Linked DNA regions of Homo sapiens: region 1 is linked to region 2. The links come from fine-mapping of genetic effects on gene expression. Tissue or cell type: lung. Region 2 holds a variant in brackets; the other region holds the start of a gene. All regions are shown on one strand. Distances are from middle to middle. Region 1 holds the start of EFNA5 (ephrin A5). Region 2 overlaps EFNA5 (ephrin A5).

Region 1 (11,780 bases), 170 kb before region 2:
AAATCTGATGAGGGAAATACAGAGGTGTAGAATGTATATGCACATTTTGTTAGCAAAAGACAACCTGAAAATGGCTTATGGGAATAAAATTACTTACAAATGTAAGTTTTTTGGTTGAAAACTGGTCACATAACTGTATGTATGGTATATGTACTGAAATCTAGATAATGAAAAGTGATGTGGAAATTGGTTACATTAACCAGTCCTTGCTTGCTTTTTAAAAAAATTTCATAGGAGCACATACGCATTTGTGATACATAGAAACATAACACATATTTACAAATGTGCCTAATTATATGGTTTATGTTGTTTACCAAAATGACTGCTGAAAGTTCTGTGTGTTTAAGAAGTTTACTATGTTGGTTTTACTTAAAATATGCTTTGAAATGGGCAAAACAACAAATAGACTAAGTTCATAGATAAAAAAATTTTAAAATGCCTCTTTCAGAATATTGCAGCAACTTGCAGGACTGCTTCTGTTTCTCTGTAGATTTAAGGAAATAAATTCTAGCAAACCCCAGAAAAGGAAGGGGAGAATGAGGAAAAGGGAGAAAATCCATGATGGAAGTTGAAGGTCACAGGAATGAAAGGAGAGATGTAATACTTTATAGTCTTTTTTTTTTTTTTTTTAAGATTGTACACAGAAGAGATAACTAGATCAGGGATAGAAAAGGAGCTTTTCTTAAAGTCTCTGAGGAGAGAAAAGTCAGCAAAGAGTTATTTCTGAAGATTCTTAGGAACTTGTTATAAAAACAGGTGGGGAAGAGAGAGTGCTTTATTGGTAACTTCAAACATTCTGTGGGCAGGACAGCTGAGTCACAGTTTGGTGATAGGATCTTAGCTTCTTGGAGCTTCAGAATTTATTCTAAATGTTCTAGAAAAATAGCAGAGTTAGCTTAAATACCATTATGTTAGTCATCTGTTAGAAAGTTTTGTGTTTAATTATTATTTAATTTTTGCTCTAGAGTTTATTTTCTTTATGATCTCTTCTGGATACTAGTTCTAATTTAACTGCTATATTAAAAGTTGCTTAGGACTGAGGAATTTGATTTGCCAGCTTATTTCATTTATTTGTCTAGGCACCCTGAGACTATAGAACTCTACTTCTATTGGGTGGCAGCTAATTCAAATTAAAAACTAGTCTAAAAAATAAGATTAATCCATATTTAAGCTTTGCCCTGCAACCACATCTTGGAGTTGGCACTCACAGATAATTTTGTGCCATGTAAAAATTATTTAAAAGTATCAGTGTCACTTCACATTAATAGAGATCATGAAATTCTCTAAGGTATCAATATTCTGGCCTTAATGGTGAATTGGGCTACTTCTCCAGATAAGTAAGTGCAGAACTTACTTTTGCCTGAAATATTAGTTAAGGTAAAAATAACTTACCAGTGGTTATTTATTGAGATCAGTGGTTCTCAATCCTCTATGCTCACTAGTATTCCCTGGAGAGCTTTTAAGAATTGTAGATCCCAAGTCCCCCTCCTAACCAACTAAAACAGGAAGTGGAGCCCTGGTATTGGTTTTGTTGTTGTTGTTGTTGTTTGTTTGTTTTTTAACGCTCCCTAGGTGATTCTAATTTGTAGCCAAGGTTAGAACACTGATCAAGGTAGTTCAAGCCCCAAAAATTAAATAAACGCATAAATTCCTATTTGTGCTTTAATTTGGGGCATATAAATTATTGCTTCAATGGCACTTGCTTTAAACCCACCAGCGCACCCAGTGGCCTATAGCTTTAAATGGAAACAGAATTGCAGATAAGCCCTTTTATCGTCCATTACCAACCTATTTTTTCAGGTCTCAGCTCCCTACAACATTGTCTTGTCAAACTCGAAGCGTTTGAACACTGTCTGCATTTTTTTGTCCCCATGTTTTTAGGTTCTTGCTGTTCTCTTTTTGTTATACGTTCACCTCCTCCTATACCTGGCAAAATACTTACATTCTAAAGGGCATTTAAAGTCGTTTAAAAGTCATTGCTTCTGTGACACTGGGCGAATTATAATAAAATTATTTTATATAATGTTGATTTGTATAAATTTAAATCACATGAATGCTTTCCTGAAGAGACAAAGTCACATTATCTAACGGTAAGTGTACAGTTAATAATATAGCTCTTCAAACTCTGTTCAAGTACAGCAGGTCCTCAACGCTGTTTGGTTGAACGTCACTTCGTCATAATGGTGATGAGAAAAAAAATCGATTCCAGGCCATGGCCACTGTCTGTGAGTAGTTTGCACATTCTCCTCATGTCTGCGTGGGTTTTCTCCGGGTACTCTGGTTTCCTCCTACAACCCACAGCTGTGCTCGCTAGGTTGTGTCTAAGCTGTGCACATATCTAAATATTCTCAGTATGCGTGAGTGTGGGTGTGAGTGTGAGTGCACCCCAGGATAGAAGGGTGTCCTGTCCAGGGTTACTTTCCTCCTTGAGCCCTGAACTCCGGCCACCTGCAATCCTGAAATGGAAAAATTGGTTACATGATCTTACTTGTTTTTATTAATCTTTCTCAAATGTATGTCTAGCTCACATTTATTTCAATGTTTAACATTAGAAGTGTTTTGGTCTTTATCTGGAAGTTTGGTGATGTTTTTGTGACCGGAGATATGCATAGGAATTTAACTCTTGTTTGTATCAAGTAGCCTATGGTGAAATTGTTTTCCTTATATATGCCACTTCGCTTAAAGTCACAATTTCCAAGAACATATCCCTGACATTAAGGACTTACTGTATCTATCATCCTGCTGACTAGTAACTTCCATACCAATAATTACTTAGGCACATAATCCCAGAGTCATTTGATTTAGGTTTATGAATTGTTTCACATAGACATTTGAGTTATGTTATGAACAGCCGCGAATTTCAACATCTTATTCCAATCTTATGAATCACTTTATGGAAGAGGACAATGTATACTTTTTTTTCTGTTTAATATGGGACTATTCAAACTTTAAATAGTAGAGATATTTAAATATAAGGACATCCATATTTTTGTGATATAATTGAATTTTCCCATTTGGTTATTGTATGTGTTTCAAACGGGAAATGAGTGGATACCATTTCTTTTTCTTCACCTTTTTTTCAGCTTTGATGCCACAGGAAGCCAGCTTGCTAGCTCCCTGTTACCTGATAGTTCCCTGACTAAAAAGACTCTTCAGTGAGGATCAGCATTTTACCCTAGACAGGAGTCGTGAATTTTCTTTTTAAAGATACACATATCTCTTAAAAGGGTCCAGAATATTTCCTGCAAAACTGTCTCTGTCATATGAGCACCTATTAGAGCCACTATAAGAAAAGCTAAGGAAACAAATCCATCTTTCCTGCAACAGAAAAAACACACACCCTAAAATGGGCCAAGAACTTGAACATCAGCAAGATTACAGACCAGGGAAAAAAGCAAATAACATTTTAACTGAAAATTTGATTTGAAAAATAAAAGCTTATCCATTGGTTCTCTCACTTCTTTCCCCACTTCTTTCTCACTGCTGGAACTTTGTGAAACATACAGATGATGGAGGAGCATTTGTGTCGACATTCTGAATTTCAATTTTTAATAATTAGGCAGATGGTTGGTTTGTGGTAAAGTCCATTATTGTACAGATTGCAATTTGTATCTAGTCACAAAATATAAGTTACTTTCCTAGGACGATTTCAGGATCTTTTCAGATAGGAAATATTACTGTAATTGAAAAACGACTTAACTTTTAGCCAAGAGCCCATAACATCCAGGTACCTCCGTGCCCCTATGAACTGTTTCTTTTCCTCTCGAGTCTTTATTGGTCATAGCCCTAGATTTCCCATCAAATTCAACCCGGCCTGAGCGGCAGGCAATGCCCCTGCTGGGTGCGGATTGCAGGCCCACCACTGGAGGGCGTCTGGACGCTTCTAAACAGCTCTGAAGCGCCTGGAAATCCCGTCTGAGGACTGGAAAGCGCAGGAGGGTGAACGTGAGATTTGATTTTATTGGGCTAATAAGTAAAAAGGAGTGCAGGCAGGTGTGGGAGCAAAAGTAAACTGCCTTTTTTCTCCTGGGGATCTGCCCTTCCCACTAAGGCAGAAAACTCCCTAGGGAACATGAGAAAAAATACCGCTGCTCCCGAGCCCGCGGACCCCTTAAGGGCGGGTCTCGGGGGCCTGTGGCCCCGCAGAGCAGGCGTCGGGCTCACTTCCTGGGCGCTGGACGACAGTGGGGACGCGTCCCGAGGCGCTGGGACAGTCTCGCTGCCAGGAGATCGCTCTTCAGTGGCGGCTGAAGACCAGGCTTGCAACCTGCCCTTGAAGTCCAGGACCGAGGGGCCTTTTCCAACAATAAAGGAACTGCTTTTCTTCCCACAGCCCCCGCCCCCGGCCCTCATTTCTTTCCGCACCGGGTTCGATAAAGGCGTTTATTCTTTGGGGAGTGGGCAGCAAATCACCCTCAAGGTTGAAATGGAAGAGGTGTGAGGTTATTTCTGAAGGGCTCGTCTGCCGCATTCATTTCCTCTCTGTGGAAGGTTCGCGCTGAATTGTAATCACTTTAAACTGTGATTTGCCTGATTTTTAAAAACGTGTTTTCAGAGCATCACTTTAAAGAAAACTTGCTTCCTGCCCAAGAATCTTTAAATCCCAAGTGGGAAGAGGAGGGCTGAAAGGCACAGGAGGGGTGCTCAGACTTCCAGATAACCCAGCGCCAGGCAGCGTGCGGCGTGGAGAGCGGGTGGAATGGACAGGAACGCGCACTCCCTGAGGCTCCGTTCCAGCCCATCCGTCACCTGCGGGGCACCAGAGACAGATGCCGGCTCTCCAGCCAAAGGGTGGGCACAGGTTCCTTTAAAATCGAAAGACCCTACTCCCAGGTAAAAAGATGTCAAATCATTCCTTAGCCCAGACGGAATTCAGCACCCAAAGGGTTACACGTGGCTGCCGGGCTCCGGCGCAGGAGAGGGCGCCTCGGCACTCCCAGTAATTCAATTAGTCAGGTTTCTAGAAGGTGGGGCGGGGGAGGGGGTAGGAGGCGTGGGGAAGGGAGATTAGGAAAACGCCTCTTTCTCGTGGAGCAAACCAATCCGGTTGGAGTAAAGAGAGAGGAAAAACCCCCAATCTGTAAGCAAACAGTAGGCCGTTCCCTGACTGGTTGCTCCAGCTATCCCCCCACCGCGCTCCCACCCTTCCCAAGTAAACTGCTTGGAAGGAGGAAAAAAAAAAAAAAAAAAAAAAAGACAGTCCACATGACCCGGGCCGCAGCGGCAGCAGCGCTGGCTGGGCGCGGGCTGGCGGCACCTCCCCCTGCTTCGTCCGGAGCTCACACCCGCGCTCGCGCCGCCCGCCCGTCCCGCGTCCCGCGCAACACGCCCGGGCGGAGCCCCATCCCCCCGCCCACGTCCACGTTCACGCGTGCGGCCTCGCGCTCTGCTGAGGCTGCTGCCACTGGGTCGCCGCCGCTGTCGGCTTTCCACGCAAGTCATTAACGAGGGGGCGTGCCCGAGGAGATTTTTTTTCCCATAAAGCATTTTTTCTCTCGCTCTCTTTTTTTCCCCCTCTTTTGCAAAACTGACTTTTACAAAACCCTTTCCACTTCTTGCCAGTCGTTTCAATTCCTCCTGGGCTGCTCGTGCTGCTGCTGCTGCACTCAAGTTTATTTATTTTCCCGCCTGGGTAGGGGTTTTAGGATTCGGTTTGTGGTTTTCACCTCTGTTGCTGCTGTGCCTAAGGAGGGAAAGAGGAGCAGCTGCGGGAGGATCGGGAAGGTTTTCTGATGTAGTCATCGGGGAGGTGCCACTCGCTCGTGCGCTTTTTTTTTTTCCTCTTTTCCCATTTCAAACTGATTGATGCATCTCTACAAGTTGCTAGGCTTGGACCCGCTGGAGTCGCAGGGACACTTCTGAGAGCTCACCCCGGGCTCTTGGCACCGCGTGTGGGGGCTCAGTCTCCCTCTCGGAAGGCGATCGGAGACTGACATCGGCCCATCCAGGAGTTGGAGGGATCCATTTGAAAGTGATTGTTTCCCCTCCCGCTCTCCAGCCGAACAGTTGGGTTGGCGTCGTCTTGCAGGTTTAGGAATCCCAGCTCTGCCAGGCCGGCTGGTCTTAACCTCTGCTCTTCATTCACTGTGGTGCACCCACACCCAGCCAAGGAAAGCACGCGCGAGAAATCCCCGAGGCTCGGCCAGCCCCCGGGGTGCCCTCTTCCGCTACCGCCGCGTTCCGACTCTGCTGGGGGACCTGCCGGAAGACGCGAAGAGCCAAACTTTTCTTTGAGGTTTTCGAGGCAAGACCGCTTCGAAAGCCGGCGCAGCTGCCGCTTAACCAGTTCCAGGACACCGACAAGGCTGGGTTGCGGCTCCGGATCCCCACCCTTCTCGGCGCACCGCCCGGTACCGCAGCACTTACGACTCCTCTGAGATTTCTGGGGGTCGCCCCGCTAAGGCACAGAGGAGGCTGAGGAAAGGGGTTCTCAGACTCCCGGGACCACAAGCGCGAAGCCCTCTATCAGCACGTCGCCCTTCTCCTGCAGTTTCCCACCGGCCGCCAAAGTAACTTGGAGCGAAGCGTGGCGCAGTGCGAGGGCCCCGGGCGGTGGCGGAGCCGTGCGTAGCCTGCTGCGCCGACGCTGAGCCGGGCCCGGCGGGCCGGTGTATGTCTCCCCGCGGCTGCGGCGCGCAACTCCCGGTGACTGTGCAGCGCGCGCCGCCGCCTGCCCCGACCCGCGCTGCAGCCGCCCGGCCCGGCGCGCACCTCCCTCTCCCGGGGTGACCGGCCTGCCGCCGCCGCCCGAGACACAGCTTGGCACCTCTTCCCCCGCCCTCGCCGCCGCCACCACACACACGCACGCTTCTCTCCATCTTGTGATTCCTTTTTCCTCCTGAACCCTCCAGTGGGGGTGCGAGTTTGTCTTTATCACCCCCCATCCCACCGCCTTCTTTTCTTCTCGCTCTCCTACCCCTCCCCAGCTTGGTGGGCGCCTCTTTCCTTTCTCGCCCACTTTCATTTTTATTTATTCATATTTATTTGGCGCCCGCTCTCTCTCTGTCCCTTTGCCTGCCTCCCTCCCTCCGGATCCCCGCTCTCTCCCCGGAGTGGCGCGTCGGGGGCTCCGCCGCTGGCCAGGCGTGATGTTGCACGTGGAGATGTTGACGCTGGTGTTTCTGGTGCTCTGGATGTGTGTGTTCAGCCAGGACCCGGGCTCCAAGGCCGTCGCCGACCGCTACGCTGTCTACTGGAACAGCAGCAACCCCAGGTAAGCCGATAACAGGCGGAGAGCCAGGGCTACCCGGGCCTCGGGGCCCTGCGGAAGGAGCGGCGGCGGGGATCGGCGCGCACCAACCGCTGGCGGCGCGCACCCTCGGAGCCTGCGTCGCCCGGGCGCTGATGGCTTGAGGCGTCGGCGGGAAGCGCTCGCGTCGCGCCCCTCTTTGTTAAGCCGCCGCGGAAAGGCCAGGTACCCCTGGGAGTCCCCGGGGCTGCCTAGACCAACTGCTTCTGCGGGGCGCCGGGAGACTCGGAAAAGGGCGGGAGCCGGGGAGTAGGGACTTCTCTGCTTCCCAGCCCCGGCATCTGGCTGGCATCCGGTTCCCGGCGCGGGGAGCCCCCAGTGTGCGCAGCCGGGAGCTCCTTCCTGGAGCGTGGGTCCGCAGGGACTGCGGAGAGAACCCGCCAAACATCCCCCAAAGTTTTTTTTTTTTTTTTTTTTTTTTTAATTTTAATTTTCCCTTCTCTTTTCCCGGTGCGCGCAGAGAGAGCGCACGGGCTGGGGGAAGTGAGGGGGGCTGGGAAGCGGAAGCTTTAGGTTTTTATTTTCCTCTTCAACTGCGAGGAAATCATTCGGCCCCTGAGTCAGTCTGGGCCCGGCGCGCCTGGCAGTGGAGAGGATTCTCCCATCTTCTCCATCCCTCCACCCACCCCAGTGGGTTCAAGGTGCCAGAAAGTTTGATCTAATGCCGGGTTACGTCATGTGTGCAGAACAAGCTGCCAGAGTTGGCCGAGCCAGGAGGTGGGAGCCCTTCGCCCGCGGCCTGGCGATGTGCTGCCGGAGGAACGCGCGCGATTACCTGGAACCGATTTGTAGGCGTCCCGAAGCCCGCCGGGTATGCGGGAGACTAGAGGTGGGCGCCGGGGGCGGTCCTAGTGCGCGTGCTGGACACCGGCCAGTCGCAGACGTCCCGTGTTTTCGGACCCTGGAAGTGGAGTGGGGAGGTTATCCAGAGTGCCCGGCGGGGTCCTCCGGGTCTGGAGCAGTTCCGAACCTTTATTGCTTCCCGGCCTGTGCACAGAAGTCGGCCCCGCTAGGCCCATACCGCACTGCTTTCTCTGGGACAGAGGCTAGCTTCCAGCTGTGTGCCGGTCTCGGTGCCCTCCTAGGTGCTATTTATTAATAGTACCGATTGCATCTAAAGTCACAGGTTTTTCACTGGGCTGGAGTGGAAGTTGGGAAGAGAGAGGCGGGAGGCCGAGGGGTTAGCCTAAGAGTTGGTGCGCGCCCCGGGCTCCAGGAGAGAGGGTATCGGTGGGCGCCTCCAGTTTTTTCTATCTCCTGCGGGCCCTCTCCGCCTGCCTCCAGCCTCCCCTCAGCATGCAGGCAAGAGAGGGATTCCCTGCTTGAATAATGTCAGCGCAGATGAAGATGGGAAGATTTCCCCACAAGCAGTCCGCCGGTTACAGAACCAGGAGGGAGTTCCCCCTATCCCGCTAGTCCAAGATAGTCTTACTCAGGTAGCCGCCCAAGTCCTAAATGAACCGCTGAACAGGAGTGGAGATATTCCTGAAAGTTTGGTTCAAAAAACAAGAGTCTCCTGGAGGTGGGTGGTGGAATGGGAAGCGATTTCTTCTTTGACATGCCACTTACCACTATTAGGAAAAGAGAAAAAGAAGCCATCCTGCCAGAGGAGAGATGCCTTTTATTAAAGCTGACAAGACAAATAGAGCAAGCTTTCCAGTTGTGATGGTGTTAAAAGCCAGTCTCATTATGTTGGTTAGTTTTTTTTCCCCGTTTGTGCTTTATTAGGCAGCATATACGAAGCAGAAATTTGTATCTCTGAACTTTAGCACCTTATTAAATAAAGCAACACTGAAATAGTTTCTTTGAATTTGGGATATCTTGCTCTCGGTTGTCTTTTCTTTCCCACACCAAGCTCCACATTGTGATCTTTTTCTCATGGCATTCATTTATTTGGATACTTGGGTGTTCCAGTCTTCCTGGGTTAAAACGGAAAGAACCAGCAACACCCCTACTTTAACCCCCCTTCTTAACCTGTCAAGCTAGTCTGAGTTAGTTTGAGGACATTTTATCTTAGGTTATCTCTGTTTTGTGCTTTTGATACTGTTGTTTGGTTTGAGATTAGCACATTGATTTTTGTCACAGGTCATGTTTTTTAATAGATCTGCCCTGCCTGCAGAAAACTCTTCTGCTCAGGATGCCATGGAGGCTTTGAACCTGCCCAGACAAAGTTAATCTGCAGAATTTTAAAATACCAAGAGTATTTCTAAATCGGTATTCTAACTTCAGGTTTGTAGAATTACCTTTCTATTTGATCATTATCAGTTTGATAATGGCCAAAAGAAAGAATGATGTACCCCTCTTAACCCCAAGAGATACAGCCCTAACACTTATTATTCTTAGGAATTTATGGACACATTTATCTTGGTATGTTATCACAGTTAAAAACTTACTTTAAAAACAATATTTTAAAAGTAGGCAGTTTTATCTCTGAAGTGTTGAATAAGATGTTGCTCTTTTGATGCATTAAGAAAAGTCAACTTGGATATAAGAGGCCACATGCCAAATAAGTATTTTAAAAATAAAAACTAACAGTTTTCCACAAACAATAGTAAGAAAATATTTCAGAAAATTTCCACGGGTTTAGTAAATTTTATAAATTCACTGTTGTGCAATTCCTTTTCCTGTATGTTATTTCATAAAGTAAGCTAGCCATGCTTTGTGTCTTTATATAGAACCTATCTGTTAAAATTTTGCTAAACTAGTAAGACTTCAATCTTTTGAAAAAAGAATAGAGGACTTTAATTGCAACTTAAATAATTTTTTTTATTTTTCCCTCAGAATATAATATGTTCAGTGGGCACGTTAAACTGATGATAATGTACACTGTGTCTAAACGAAGTAAATCTACTTTAGCTTATACTAACAGATTCAATTTGAAATTATGTTTAGGTAAAATCAGAATTAAATGTATCTTGATCACAGGGATTAAGTACAGTATCTTACTGTGTAACTTGTGTCACTTGTGTATCTGGTAGGAGTTTATCTTCTACATGGAGTTTCATTACTGCCTCTCCATTGATAAATGAGCATCTATAGATGTAGTTTCACGGGAAAAAATATTAAATTTATTTGCTGTCAGAATAGTTTTACTGTTACAATCTATGTACCCAGGTATTCACTTCTGAGAAGTGGATACTGAGTTTTCAAATGCTGATAACTTTTAGTTGGTAGTATTTATTGGATAGGGGACCAAACTGATTTTTTTATGTGTTGAATTGGCACAAATTTGTGAAATAGCCACTCAGAACTATCAGTTTGAATAGAAATATATGATAACATTTGCCTAAATAGATCTTCTATATTTCCAAAATTTGAAAACTTGTATAAGTTTTACCTAAAAGTGTAAATAATCAAATCATCCTTTTAATATTATTCTGAATTCTAAACTGGAATGTCACCAAGTAACTTTGAGTAATGAAAATCCACATCAAGAAGAATATAACTATTTGTCCTTAATTTCTTTAAGAATGTAAAAAGCTTTTAAATAAAGTTAAAAAGACTTCCAGTAATAAAAGTTTATTTACATTCTCCTTTAGTAGCTATGCTTATAAAGAGAGTCATAATACTAAGAACATGCCTCTTCATCTGAAGTATGCCATAAGCAGTTTGGTGCTTCTAATAAGAATATACTTTTAAACATCATGTGCGTATTCTAAGTTCTTCTTGGATTATTTTGACTATTTGCTGAAATGATATTAGGGTAATTAAACATATCTCCTACTGGTTGGCATTATTGATGCAATAGTCAAATAATACAGCAGCAAATATGACCAACACACTTTTAGGAATACCAGTCGTCCTCAACCTGGTGCTTTGCTTCTGTTAAGGTTTGAGTATCATCAATTTAAAAGGTTATACTCTTAAGAGGAAAATATCTGTGTAAGTCATGAAGGATTTACTAAACTTTAACCTAATCATGTTTTCTTTGGACTTTTTCAATTCTTGTAGGGACTTGTATATTAAACATTTCATATTAGAGTAGCAGGTAATTGACACCTTTTAGTTTTGTTAACACGTAATCTTGGAGTTGTGAAAGTAATGTGAATTCTAGGTCAACACTCCCAAGTCCTCTGGCAGTACAGGTCAAATGTATGTGGCTAAGAAGAGAGAAGTAGTAACATTTTTTTTTTCCTAATCATATTCCCTTGAGTATTTTTCTTCTTTCAAAATTTAGTTGCTCCATTTAAAAAAAATCTGAGCCATCATCATTTTGACATATGTATACCAGTATGCCGGCACTGTGACCTTTTCACTGACAAGTAAATGAAATCAGCATGGTTTAAATCTAAGAATTTGTTGTGAGTAAAGATTGAAAGTTTATCTTGGTCTTGAATGAGTTTCATCACAAAACTTAGATTGTCCTTACTTTTGAAATTTTAAATATTTTAAGTAATATTTTGTATGTTAGAAACATAAATGTTTTTCAAGTAAAAGGCATTAACTTTAAGCCTCAGTGTAACGTATCACATTATTAGATGTATTGGTAGTAATTTTGTTACTCTGAAATTTAGATCAGAATTTATGCAAG
Region 2 (11,780 bases):
AGGCTGAGACAGGAGAATCACTTGAACCTGGGAGGCAGAGGTTGCAGTGAGCCAAGATCGTGCCATTGCACTCCAGCCTGGGCAACAAGAGCAAAACTCTCCGTCTCACACACACACACACACACACACACACACACACACACACAAAGAAAAAGAAAGAAATGCAACTATGTTGAAATAATTATATAATCATTTTGATGACCATCCAGTCCACAAGGTTGAATTAACCATGTAGTTTAAAATAGTTTCTGTTTGAGAGTATTGTAAAGTAAGAAAAGATTTTTGGTCCTTGCAAAATCCTGAGTAGGTAGCTCGTTGTCATCCTAGTCTCAGTGTGTAGCTTTGGAGAAACTGATCACAACTTTTTTGAGACTGTGTTAAAACTTGCATCCAGGAGGTTTATAAAAAAAGATTGGGCTGTTCTGGTCTTCAGCACCTCATGACTTATTTTCTAAATTGTGACCCAGTCTTTCTAGTTTATTTCTTTACTCATATATTCAAGAAAACGTACTAAGCACCTACTTGTCATAAACATTTAAGACTTCCTGGTAACCACCATTTAAAGTATTCATATTGTAGTATTACCAGAAAGGGGTCCAGATCCAGACCCCAAGAGAGGGTTCTTGGATCTCGCAAGGAGTTTGGTGCAAGTCCCTAGAGTAAAGTGAAAGGAAAGTAAAGGAATAAAAGAATGGCTACTCCATAGGCAGAGCAGCAGCTTGAGGTGCTAGACTAAGGATACTTACAGTTATTTCTTGATTATAGGCTAAACAGAGAGTGGATTATTTATGAGTTTTCTGGGAAAGGGTGAACAATTCCTGGAACTGCAGGTTACTCCCCATTTCAGACCATGTAGGGTAACTTCCTGACATTGCCATGGCATTTGTAACTGTCATGGCACTGGTGGGAGTGTCTTTTAGCATGCTAATGTGTTGTAATTAGCATATAATGAGCAGCGAGGATGACCAGAGGTTACATTCATGGCCATCTTGGTTTTCGTGGATTTTGGTTGGCTTCTTTACCACATGCTGTTTTATCAGCAAGGTCTTTATGACCTGTACCTTGTGTTGACCTCCTATCTCATCCTGTGGCTAAGAATCTCTTACCCTCCTGGGAAAGCAGCCTAGTAGCTCTCAGCCTCATTTTACATAGCCCTTATTCAAGATGGAGTTGCTGTGATTCAAATGCCTTTGACAGTAGCATACAGTGAAATGATGATCATGGAGCATATTGTTATTAACTAATGGCGTAATCATTTCCATGAATTATTCAGTCATTAAACATTTATGTTCTGAGTGTCCATTATGTGCCATTCAATACACAGATATTTATTGAGCATCTGCTAGGATCAAGGACTCTTCTGGGTTCTAGAAATATACTAATGAATGTAATAGGCAAAAATTTCTGCCCTCGTGAAGGCCGTATTCCAGTGTTCCTCATCTACGTTTTTAAATCATTTATAACCATTCATCTGTATATGAGTATATTTTTAAGGGGTGTAAAAAGAGTTGACACTCAGGCCGGGTGTGGTGGCTCATGCCTGTAACCCCAGCACTTTGGGAGGCCAAGGCGGGCGGATCACGAGGTCAGGAGTTCAAGACCAGCTTGGCCAACATGGTGAAACTCCGTCTCCACTAAAAATACAAAAAAAAAAAAAAAAAAATTAGCCAAGCATGGTGGCACATGCTTGTAATCCCAGCTACTCGGGAGGCTGAGGGAGGAGAATCGCTTGAATCCTGGAGGCAGAGGTTGCAGTGAGCTGAGATCGCACCATTGCACTGCAGCCTGGGCGACAGGGTGAGACTCCACCTCAGAAAACAAAAAAAAAAAAGGAAAAGAAAAAGAGTTGACACTCACTTTTGCTCTTTTGTGTTGGTTCTTTCAGATGAAAAGAACAAATAGTCATCTTAAAGAGTCTGTAAAAGGGTATCTAAAGACATCTGCTCTTATGTATTAATGGGTTATAAGAAAATTTTTAGCAAAATTGCATTAGAGACTACTAACATGTCACGCTAGTCACCATTGTTATGTAAGTGACACAAATTCTGATTAACTCAAGAGCGAAGCCATCCTATAAATAAATTTATAGGAATAGCACTTTGTCCAAATGCAACTTTGAAACCTGAAGTTTGCTCCTAGGTAATTAAAACCAGAATACCTAAAATATCCATTTAATCGAGGAACTATAAACTGTCAGGACAAATAACTGCAATACAATAAAGGAACACTGCAATAAGTAAATAAGTGAATGATTAAATGAAATGTTTCAAGTAATGAATATACCTAATTCTGTAATGACATTGGACATGAGAAAAATGAAATTATTAATTATTGAAACACCTTTAAGTGGAATTAACTTCTAGAACTTTTTTCTCATTATTATAAAAACAAGAATAATTTATTGCTTATACTTGTATTACTAGCTGTTTAGTATACTCTGAAAATAGTGATGGTTCAAGCTTGACTTACACTTAGTTTTTAGAAGTCTATTTAATTAAGATTATTGTTATATCAAGGCTGAAGATAATTTGAAAATGGCAGGGCTGACCTTGATATTTCAATTCTAGCCAGTTTGATAGCCCTGAAGTTATTATGAAAATTTGTCTGCAGTTCATGTCTTCAAGGTTGGTGTAACACAGATGAGGCCCACATTTTTATTTAAAAGACATATACAGGAATTAAACTATGCAGCAGAAGACACAGATGGAAATAGTGTTTTACAGCAAAAAACTCTGATGACATTCGTCTGTGTGTGTGTTTGTGTCTGTGTGAATAATTATCCAGAGAGCTGCTTCTATAATACGGTGACCTCACACGTGAGGACCTACGGTGTTCACATAATAACTGTGGTCACTGAAGGTGGATGCTATTCTAACTTAAGTACTGGCATGCTTTCAGTTCTGTTCCAAGAAGCCATCCATCTGCACTTCACTTGGCTCACAGTTCCACAGAGAACAAACAGAAGGATAAACTGCAAGTTTAGTTCAGTGGCAGGAGGAAGGAGACCTGATTTGCCCAAGGCATCACCTGATTTGGCCAAAGTTCCAAAGATGATGGGAGAAACTTTTGGGTAACTACCCACATTTTTTTCTGTGAGACTTTCTTCCCCACAATTCCCTGAAAATTAGTCTTTCAAAAAAAATCTTCAGATTCTTATCCTTTAATGGTTAGATCCCACCTTGTCCTCTTTCCTGGCCTTTCTAAGCATGCACCAGCCCACAGCTGGTTAATCTTTGCTCATTCTCCAGAGTGGCATTGTCCAATAGAAATATGTGAGCCATGTATATAATTTTCAGTTTTCTAATAGCTACATTTTTACCAAGAAATTAAAAATGCTGGTGATATTAATTTTATATTTAATTCAGCATATCCAAAATACGACCTCCTGGGTTCAAGTGATTCTCCCACCTCAGCTTCCTGAGTAGCTGGAACTACAGCTGCGCTACCATGCCCAGCTAATTTTTTTTTTTATCTTTAGGAGATGAGGTTTTGCCGTGTTGCCCAGGCTGGTCTCAAACTCCTGAGCTCAAGCGGTCCTCCTTCCTTGGCCTCCAAAAGTGCTGGGATTACAGGTGTGAGCCACCACGCCTTGCCATTTTCCGTTATTTATATCCAAACCCTTCATCCATTCCTGCATTCCCTGGCTAGGTTCTTAATTAATATAGGCTGCTAAATGAATGAATGATCCATTTTCATTGGCTCTATTGTTTTAATCTTTTAAAGTTTACATGGATGTTATTAAAGACTTATAATTTGTTTTATACCAAAATATACCAGAATTATTTTTCTAGTGTAGTCATATTTATAGCTTTATGAAAAACAGCAGAGGCAAAGCAGTCAACCATAGTTAGGAGATGAGATTTGTAATCCATATTTTACTGACAACTTTCTGTGTGACCTGGAGGTGATCATTTAACTTCTCTGGTCCTCCCATTCTTCTCATCTCTAAAATGCTGTGGGATTAGATTACTTCTAATGTCCTTTCTCATTTTCTGATTGTATCATTTATTTTTGAACAAAAGTTTTTTTTTATTTTGACAGATCATATTATATAAGAATAATAGCTCTCTCATTCTGACCTTCACATACAAACTTTTGATCATTTTATGTTACTTCTCTAATCCATATTCTGTATTTCATTTTCAAAAATTTAGATTCTTATCCCTGAAGATGATGCATTATTTCTGTATTCTTAGCCCGTAGGATAATAAAGCAGCAATAAATGTTTAATGAATTTTTACTTACATTAAAAACTATTAGTAACAGTTTGCTTCTTGGAGACAAGCCTTTTTCAGCAGGTGGTGAATGTTTCAGCTGTCTTTTTCCTTACTAAAGAAGGATTCTGAGTAGGTTTCACCCTCAAAATCTAGATATTATATATTTTTTGTTATTCACCTTTGTGTTTCCTGCAGCCAAAACTGTTTTTCCTGCCTTGCTCTTCTGATCATGTTATTTCCATGCTCAAGACTCTCTAGTGCCCTAAGAATAAATTTGAGGCTCCTTAGCTTGCCATTAAATGGGCTGCCCACCCTCCACACCTGCCTCAGGCACTCATTTCTCAAATCCCCTGCTCCTGCTCCTGCTCATCTGGCCCCAGATTGCCTCTCCTCTTTTCCAGTCA[T/C]CTGATTCATTCCTATCCTTTAAGGTCTATCAGAGTGAGGTTTGAGCCCTATCTTCACCCCAGTCCATAATTTAGCAACCTTTGCTAAGGTAACCTTTATTCTTATTTGCCATTATCAAACACAAATACTTACACCAATAGAGTTCAGACTACTTCTTCAACTAAATTGTAATGTTCCAATGACAGGTTAATCATTTACTCTACTGGATGTTTACTATGTGTTGAATTCTCAGCCAAGCCTCACGAATAAAAAGAGCAAACATGCAGACAAATAGTTATAATATAGTTCCAATAAGTACAGAATTTGGAATATGTACAAGATATCTTGATGGACCAGAGAAGGGAGTAGACAACTGTTCCTGAGGGAAATCTGGGAAGGGTTCATGGAGCTGGTGAGTCCTAAGCTGGGAGTCATTTCAGGCAGTGAGAGGTACACAAATAAAGCGTAAGTGCTCAAGAGCTTGAAGTGTTTCTTGTGGCTCCCTGTGGTTGTGCTTTAGAGCAATATAGCATAGTGGTTGAATGTGTAGACTGGATCAGACTGCCAGGGTTTAAATCTTGGCTCTGTCGCTCACTAGCTCTATCACCTTGGGCAAGCTACTTCAGTTAGGCTTCAGTTTTCTCAAATGGAAAATGGGGATGATGCTGATGTTGATGATCATAATTGTTTTTTATCTCCAAGAGAAGGTGGGGGGGAGAGAAAAAGAGAGAGAGATGGGAAAGGGGGATTAAATGAGTTAGGTAAAGAATGTAGAATAGCAAGTACTTAACAAATGTTAATTATATCTCTTACTACTGATTCTCACAGTGTTGTGTACATAGGAGGTACCCAATGAATATTTACTGAATATTGAAGATTTTCACTACGCAATCAGTTAATATATTCACACGCTTTGCTATTACTGCATACATTTTCTAATGATATCTCTTAGTGATATGCTACTTTTTTGAGGATATAGGAGGGGTGTATGTGTGTGTATCAGTGATATGTGCCAGATTCATATTGGCTCACTAGGGGAAATTTTCCAATTCTGAGATCAATGACCTAAATCTCCTTGTCTACTATGATTTCCAGCTGTCCAGATTTCCCATATAGCATGCCCTAGGCAATGTTTGCAGATTTGTTGCATGGAGAATCAGTACACAGTGCACCTTGTAGTTTTACATTTTTCATGTAGGACTCAGTTTCTTTTCTAAAGAAATTTTTGTGAAATTAATAACAGGATGCCATGAAGCTTTCCTAAGTCCTTTGAACTTAAATCATTTGATATTATTTGAAATTGCCATTCATATAATGAACAGCATTTTTTCTCAGAGTTATGCAATGCCTACTGCTTCACAAATTATAAACTACGAATATTTTTACTTAACATATAACAGGTCCCTTATCTTAAAATTCATAGCATTTTTGCTTTGAATGGAGATCATTGCCAAGTTTTTGTTAGGCACCTTTTCTTTACAGAGCTTGTCCTTTATTATTAATGTCACAGTAGTTTTTCAGAACAAATTGCATTAAAGATACGGAAAAACAAAGGCTACCTTTTATACATACATTGGTTTATTGAAGCAATAATTGAATAATAAATAGGATGATATTATAGGGCCAAAATTTTACTACTAGTTATATGACAGGTTTTTCTGTTATAGCTATATTTTTGAAGCATTTTAAAATAAAATAATTAGGGTTATTCCTAAAGATTAAAATTCAGAGTCTACTAGAATAGTAATGAAAATCATTATAATTGTACTTTCACAAACATGTGCCAGACCTTTTAAGCTTGGTGCCTAAATAGGCTTCGACAACACTTTTTCATGTACTCCTACCAAATATCTTGGGGATAGGTAGGGAAGCTGTTCCACTGATTTTACAGATGGGCAGACTGAATCATAGAGCAGTTAAATGATTTGCCCAGGGTAATGTAGTAATTAGATATCTGTATCTGTCTGTGCTCTTTTCATTAGTTTATTCTGCAGCTCAAAATGTTTGTTCCTATAAGCATGCATATTATTTGTACATTAATAATGCATTTTCTATTTCTATAAAAGAAGAGAGAATAGCAGATAAAGCTCCAAATAGAGAAGACACATATTTTAGTAAGGTAGCTTTAGCATCTAGTTCTTTTTTATATATATAACATATCACTAAAAATGTATCCTCTTCGAGTGTAGGGACACATTTTGCTTTACTTAACAGCATTCATTTAAGAAAAATGCTAGTTTCATTTCAAGTCAGTTACTTTAAAAAATAATTATGTTAAAAGATATTTTAGCCCTTGTCAGTCTGTAATTCAAACCTTAAGAATGAAGCTCTTTTTTTAGTTAATTTAAAAAATACCCTCTCTTTAAATACTTTCATCCTGAACAAAAAAGACCTTTCTTTTGGGATTCCTTCTCTGCATGGCAGAGTTCCTTACAACAAAATGCTCGAAGAAAATAGGAGGTACTTCAGATACTTCTTATATAACTGATGTTTGAAAATGTTAGACTGATTGATGTATAAAAGTGAATTTTCCATAATGGGATTTTAAGTCATGAAGAATGAGGAGAATTGCCTGATTATTAGTTTAAAGGTAGCTAATTCAATGCATGCTGTAATACATTTTAAAAGCTCTGCATTGCAAATACTGAATGATGTAAAATACAAAATACACATCTTTTTATTTCCAAAGAAGATTAGAAAACAATAAAATATTAGAAACTGAAATTTTTAATTTTTTAATGGCCTTTTTAATGGGTAAACAATTTAGTAATAAAAAATATTAATGGTTATGAAGATAATAATTTTAAAGTGACTGCTGATAGCTTGGGTTACAAATAGCCTTATCCTTAAGACCTTATCTCTTTATAATTTAAGTGCTTTTACATATTTTGCCTCATTTACTTTTAAAGCTTCATGATACAGTGATTTGTGTGGGTGGCACAGTTCTTACTACGTAAGTAGTGAAACATAGCCATAGGTTAAATGATTTACTCTTAATTTTATGCTGACTTTTTCAGGCAATTTCTGAGGCTTTATGTTGCCTGTATTCTGAGCAACGAATGATTGAAAACAGCGAGGAATTCTGGAGATAGACATCGGAACACCTCTTCTTAGAAGATCACATTATTCAGAATCCTTAATGATTCTTACCTTTTGAATGACAGATTTTTAGTGGACATAAAAACTGCTAATGAAAGTAGGATGGTTAGAACTGTTGACATTTTACGTGAAGGCATTGCAACTGGGCAAAACATATTCAAAACATCAGGTAGTATTTTGTTCACTGTGCACCGAAGGCAGATGACTTCATTAACTGGTGACAATTTTACCAATCCTGGAAGCTTTGATCTTGAGGGGAAACGATCCTGCATAGTAGACAAGTTTATTGGCAATAGATGACCTGGTAGTAAACAGTGGAGTTCACAGCTGAAACTGCACCCTGTGCCCGCCCTTTCCCAACATGCTGTGATGCATTTTGAGCTCTTCCATTTTAGCTTCCATTATCCACCACCCAAGTTCTCAATTCAATTTCAGACTCGGGCAAAAGCCTGTAATTCTATTTGTTTTGGGTAAATTTAGCAAGCTGCTCCTGATTACACCTTAGCCAGAGACCATCTGTTGACTGGCGTGCCTCTCTGAGGAGTGGTTCCTGTAGGCAATGAATGGGAAGAGGGTTGGAGTGCTGCTGCTATTAGTAAGCAGATGCACCGTATCAGAGATAGTCCTTCCCGCCTTTCAATCTGCCAGCTCTCTGTATTGATGGAGTGTCGTATGCCTGCGAGTCGTTCCATCCTGAGGCAATGAGAAGTGCTCTCCTAGGGTCCATTTATCAAGTGCTTCTACTGGCATTTGATGGAAAGGAATTTAGAAGTCATAGTTTGATACACTTCGAGCACGGCCACGTTCTCCTTTGCACGTCCTGAGTATGTATGTATGTGTGTGTATATATCAACCCCATGTACATGCTTTTCAGCAGTTATGTGCTGTCAAAAGCCCCACAGATGAAACAACAAGATACAGCTGTGCTTCGTAATGTAATGAGTAAACCGCCACAGCAATTGTGTCAGGATCACAATTCTTTAAGGCACTGCTTCCTAAAATGATTGCCGGTTCATTTGCATCAGATAGGGAAGATGTGCTAGATAAATTCAGAATGTCGAGGAACAGTTTGATGTTGACTGTGGCATGATGAGGGATCTTTCTAAATGATGATACTGTTAGCTCGTGGCTAAGACGAGACTGGTCTAAACACAACAGAGACGGCAGTTTCCTGTTGCAGTGAGTCATGAGAGGAAATGGATAAAATGAACATAAATTAACTGCATTTCGTTTTCTAAGAGTTGGAGAGGGAAGGGAAGGAGGCAGTGGATGGCCAGTGTGCCTGAAAACTGGAATTAGATCGGTGAACTGAGAGGATTGGTTTCTGCCCTACGTTGGGTGAAGAGGGGCAGTCCTCATTGCTAACAGCCGCAGGTTGGTGTAATTAACTAACTTCCGTAGGCAATGCCCGGTGTACATCTTGAAAACCCATCAGATGGGGTATTTCTCACTGACATCAGCTTTTAAAGGGAGGAGGGCTCATAGTTGTATCACAGCTGCAGTACTTTTCTTTAAGGCAAGAAACAGTTTAAATCAGAGAAAATTTCACAGGATTCTAGATCGACTACTTTTTTCATCTAGTTCTATTATTTTGACCTTATGGCCGTTTTTTGTTTGTTTAATGGCGTGAATTAAAGTGTGACATTTCTGTCCATCTTTTCACGTACAAAATCAGCATTCGTTAATTCAGGTTATGAAAATAATTGCTGCTTCAACAAAGTGAGGCTTAAAATACCACAACAGAAATGTAGCCGATAGTATGTATCTTAACTTTTAGTTTATAATGACTGTATTAAAATGATATTACAGTTTTAAGTTTTTCAAACAAATAGTGAATGGTTGTGCAAAATAAGACACTGAAATATTTTTTAAAGAATTAAAATCACAAATGTTGAATGAGAAAAATAGTTTCTGAGAATTTCTTTGCTAAATCAGGGCAATTTGGTTTATTGCCAAACTGATTAAGGAGGGGCTGATTTCATAAGCTATAATATCTGTACTTTTATGTCATCTCTGATATAACAGTATATAATGTATTTAAGACTGCAGATCATCATTAAACCACATAATGATTGTTACACAGATAAAATAAGAAGCTTAATTTGTAGCTAAAGACTGTATCTTATTGATTGTATAGTTGATGTTGTGTTGTGCAGGAGGTAAGAAATATCCTAAGTAAGAAACAGAATATTTTAAAAAAATATTTACAAAATCATATAGTTGAGTCAATATCTATAAGTGAGGCTTAATCCATGCAAATAAATTGTTTTAACAAGGGCCTGTGGCTTTAAGAATGACACTTGATCTATATGCTGTAGAAGGCTTGTAGAAGTTGTCCTCATATTAGTTTATACTATGCACACAATATGTCCTTATCTAGCCTGATGCATGCTCTAAAACAGGAAGCATAAAACCAAGACGACACCAGGTATGAATAAATAGTAAGAGTTAGGAGCTGGAGCTGACTCCACTGTGAATTCTCCCACTCACTTGTTCACAGGTTTCTTCCTGCAGGCTTCAGGATGAACAATCCTGGCTGAAATGTTCACAGGAAACCTTTTTGTTTTGTTTTTTTTTAATGAATATTTTTTAGGTACTTGCTATTTGAAGAAACAAAGTCAAGGTGATTTAAGGGCCAGGCAAATATCCCTTAAAGACCTTTGTTATAATATAGCCCTTTTATTATATTTGAATATATGCTCAGATGCCTGCAGAATTTCATGTTCCAGTCAGGGTAGAGCAGGCTAATTTTTAAGGGACATGTGCTTCAGTACACAAATAGGGTAATAAATAAGACTAACAAGTGTGCATTCAGGCTACATGTATAAGAGGGTAAGAGGTGAGACAGCCACACCATATGAGGATAGGGTTGGGTGGAAACAAAGCCAGGCTAATGGAAAGCCTTGCCTGCTCTCTTCTAGAAAAAAATTGAACTCAGGTCAGTAAATAGTGCTGCACTCTGGGAGAGACAAGTATATGACAGGTCTTTGCTTTATGTGAAGCTTACAGTGGGACTAGGCTTACCCTGGCAAAATTATTACAGAACAAGAAAGACTTTGCAGTAAAGAGCAACAGAAAGAAGAAATGCAGAGCTACAAATACTTTCTTTAGCAGATATACGTATACATTGTAGGGAAAACGTAAAAGATCAGCCTTCGTGCCCTACAGACCACAGTTAATAGTGATGTTTGTGGCAGTTTTTCCTTATTGCAGATTATAAATAGTTCCAGGGAACAAATAATTACTAATGATCAACTTATAGTTGGAGATATTATATTGCATTGGTCTCTCACAATGGAGGTTCTGCTTTGACACTATCCAAGAGTGGCATTTGGGTGAATAAAAAGAGAGGGGAATAGAAAAGCTACAACTGAAGCATTAGTTAGAACACTGTCAATGCCAAATCACAACTGCTTTGTGCTGTGGATTCCTTTCTGCAGGCTGCAGGATGAATGATCCGGGTTGAAACACACACAGTACACTGCAGAACTGAGACTGTGACCCATGGGCTTTCTCCTGCTGGCCCCTCTCAGATATTCCAGTTGGTGTTGCTAGCTTTACAGTCTCCATGGGCCTATTTACCTTGGTAATTTGCACCTGATGCATTTATATTGGTAATTTTTTTTCTCCCTGGAACCCTGGGATCTCATTTATTCACTAGTGCAATGAAGTGGTGGAGTGAAAATCCCTCCCTAACTCAAGGAGGGGAAGAATTGTTTAGGGAAAATAGCAACCCTGCTAACTGCAGCTCTAATTAAAACACCAAAAGAAGACTTGTTCTTATTTAGACGTTGGCTAATACCTGTATCTCTGTGCACATATAGGCCAATGCTAGTCCATCTGTGGGCATCACTGCTAACTTGCTAACCCTTTAAAAAAATCCAGTGTCAATATGTTTTTGTTTCAAAAGAAAACAATGACAGCCCTAGGATGGAAACACAGGAATTCTTTGGCCACAGCTTGCTAAAACCATGCTTGGTAGTATGTGCATGTAGGGAAAATTACTTTGAATAACAAAAGCACAAACAAGGACTCATAGAATAATAAGCAATTAAGGTGGATTAACAACAGTTGCCGAAT

The links. PIP is the estimated chance that this variant, and not a neighbour inherited with it, causes the effect.
Region 1: EFNA5 starts here. The variant in region 2 is fine-mapped to the expression of EFNA5 in lung (TOPMed, PIP above 0.99).

The regions. Positions count from the first base shown.
Region 1 is chr5:107,665,922-107,677,701 of GRCh38, reverse strand. EFNA5 (ephrin A5) reads left to right here and starts at 6,765. Exons shown (of 5, transcript NM_001962.3): 1 at 6,765-7,213. The coding sequence starts at 7,089. RefSeq lists silencers at 3,802-3,881, 5,253-5,322, 6,683-6,732, 7,303-7,372 and enhancers at 3,962-4,011, 3,913-4,412, 6,153-6,292, 7,003-7,132, 7,533-7,612.
Region 2 is chr5:107,499,369-107,511,148 of GRCh38, reverse strand. All of the region lies in intron 1 of EFNA5 (ephrin A5), which reads left to right. Among named protein-coding and RNA genes, the nearest start is that of EFNA5, 170 kb to the left of the region's middle. RefSeq lists an enhancer at 11,458-11,780. The variant T/C (reference allele first, on the strand shown) is at 4,622.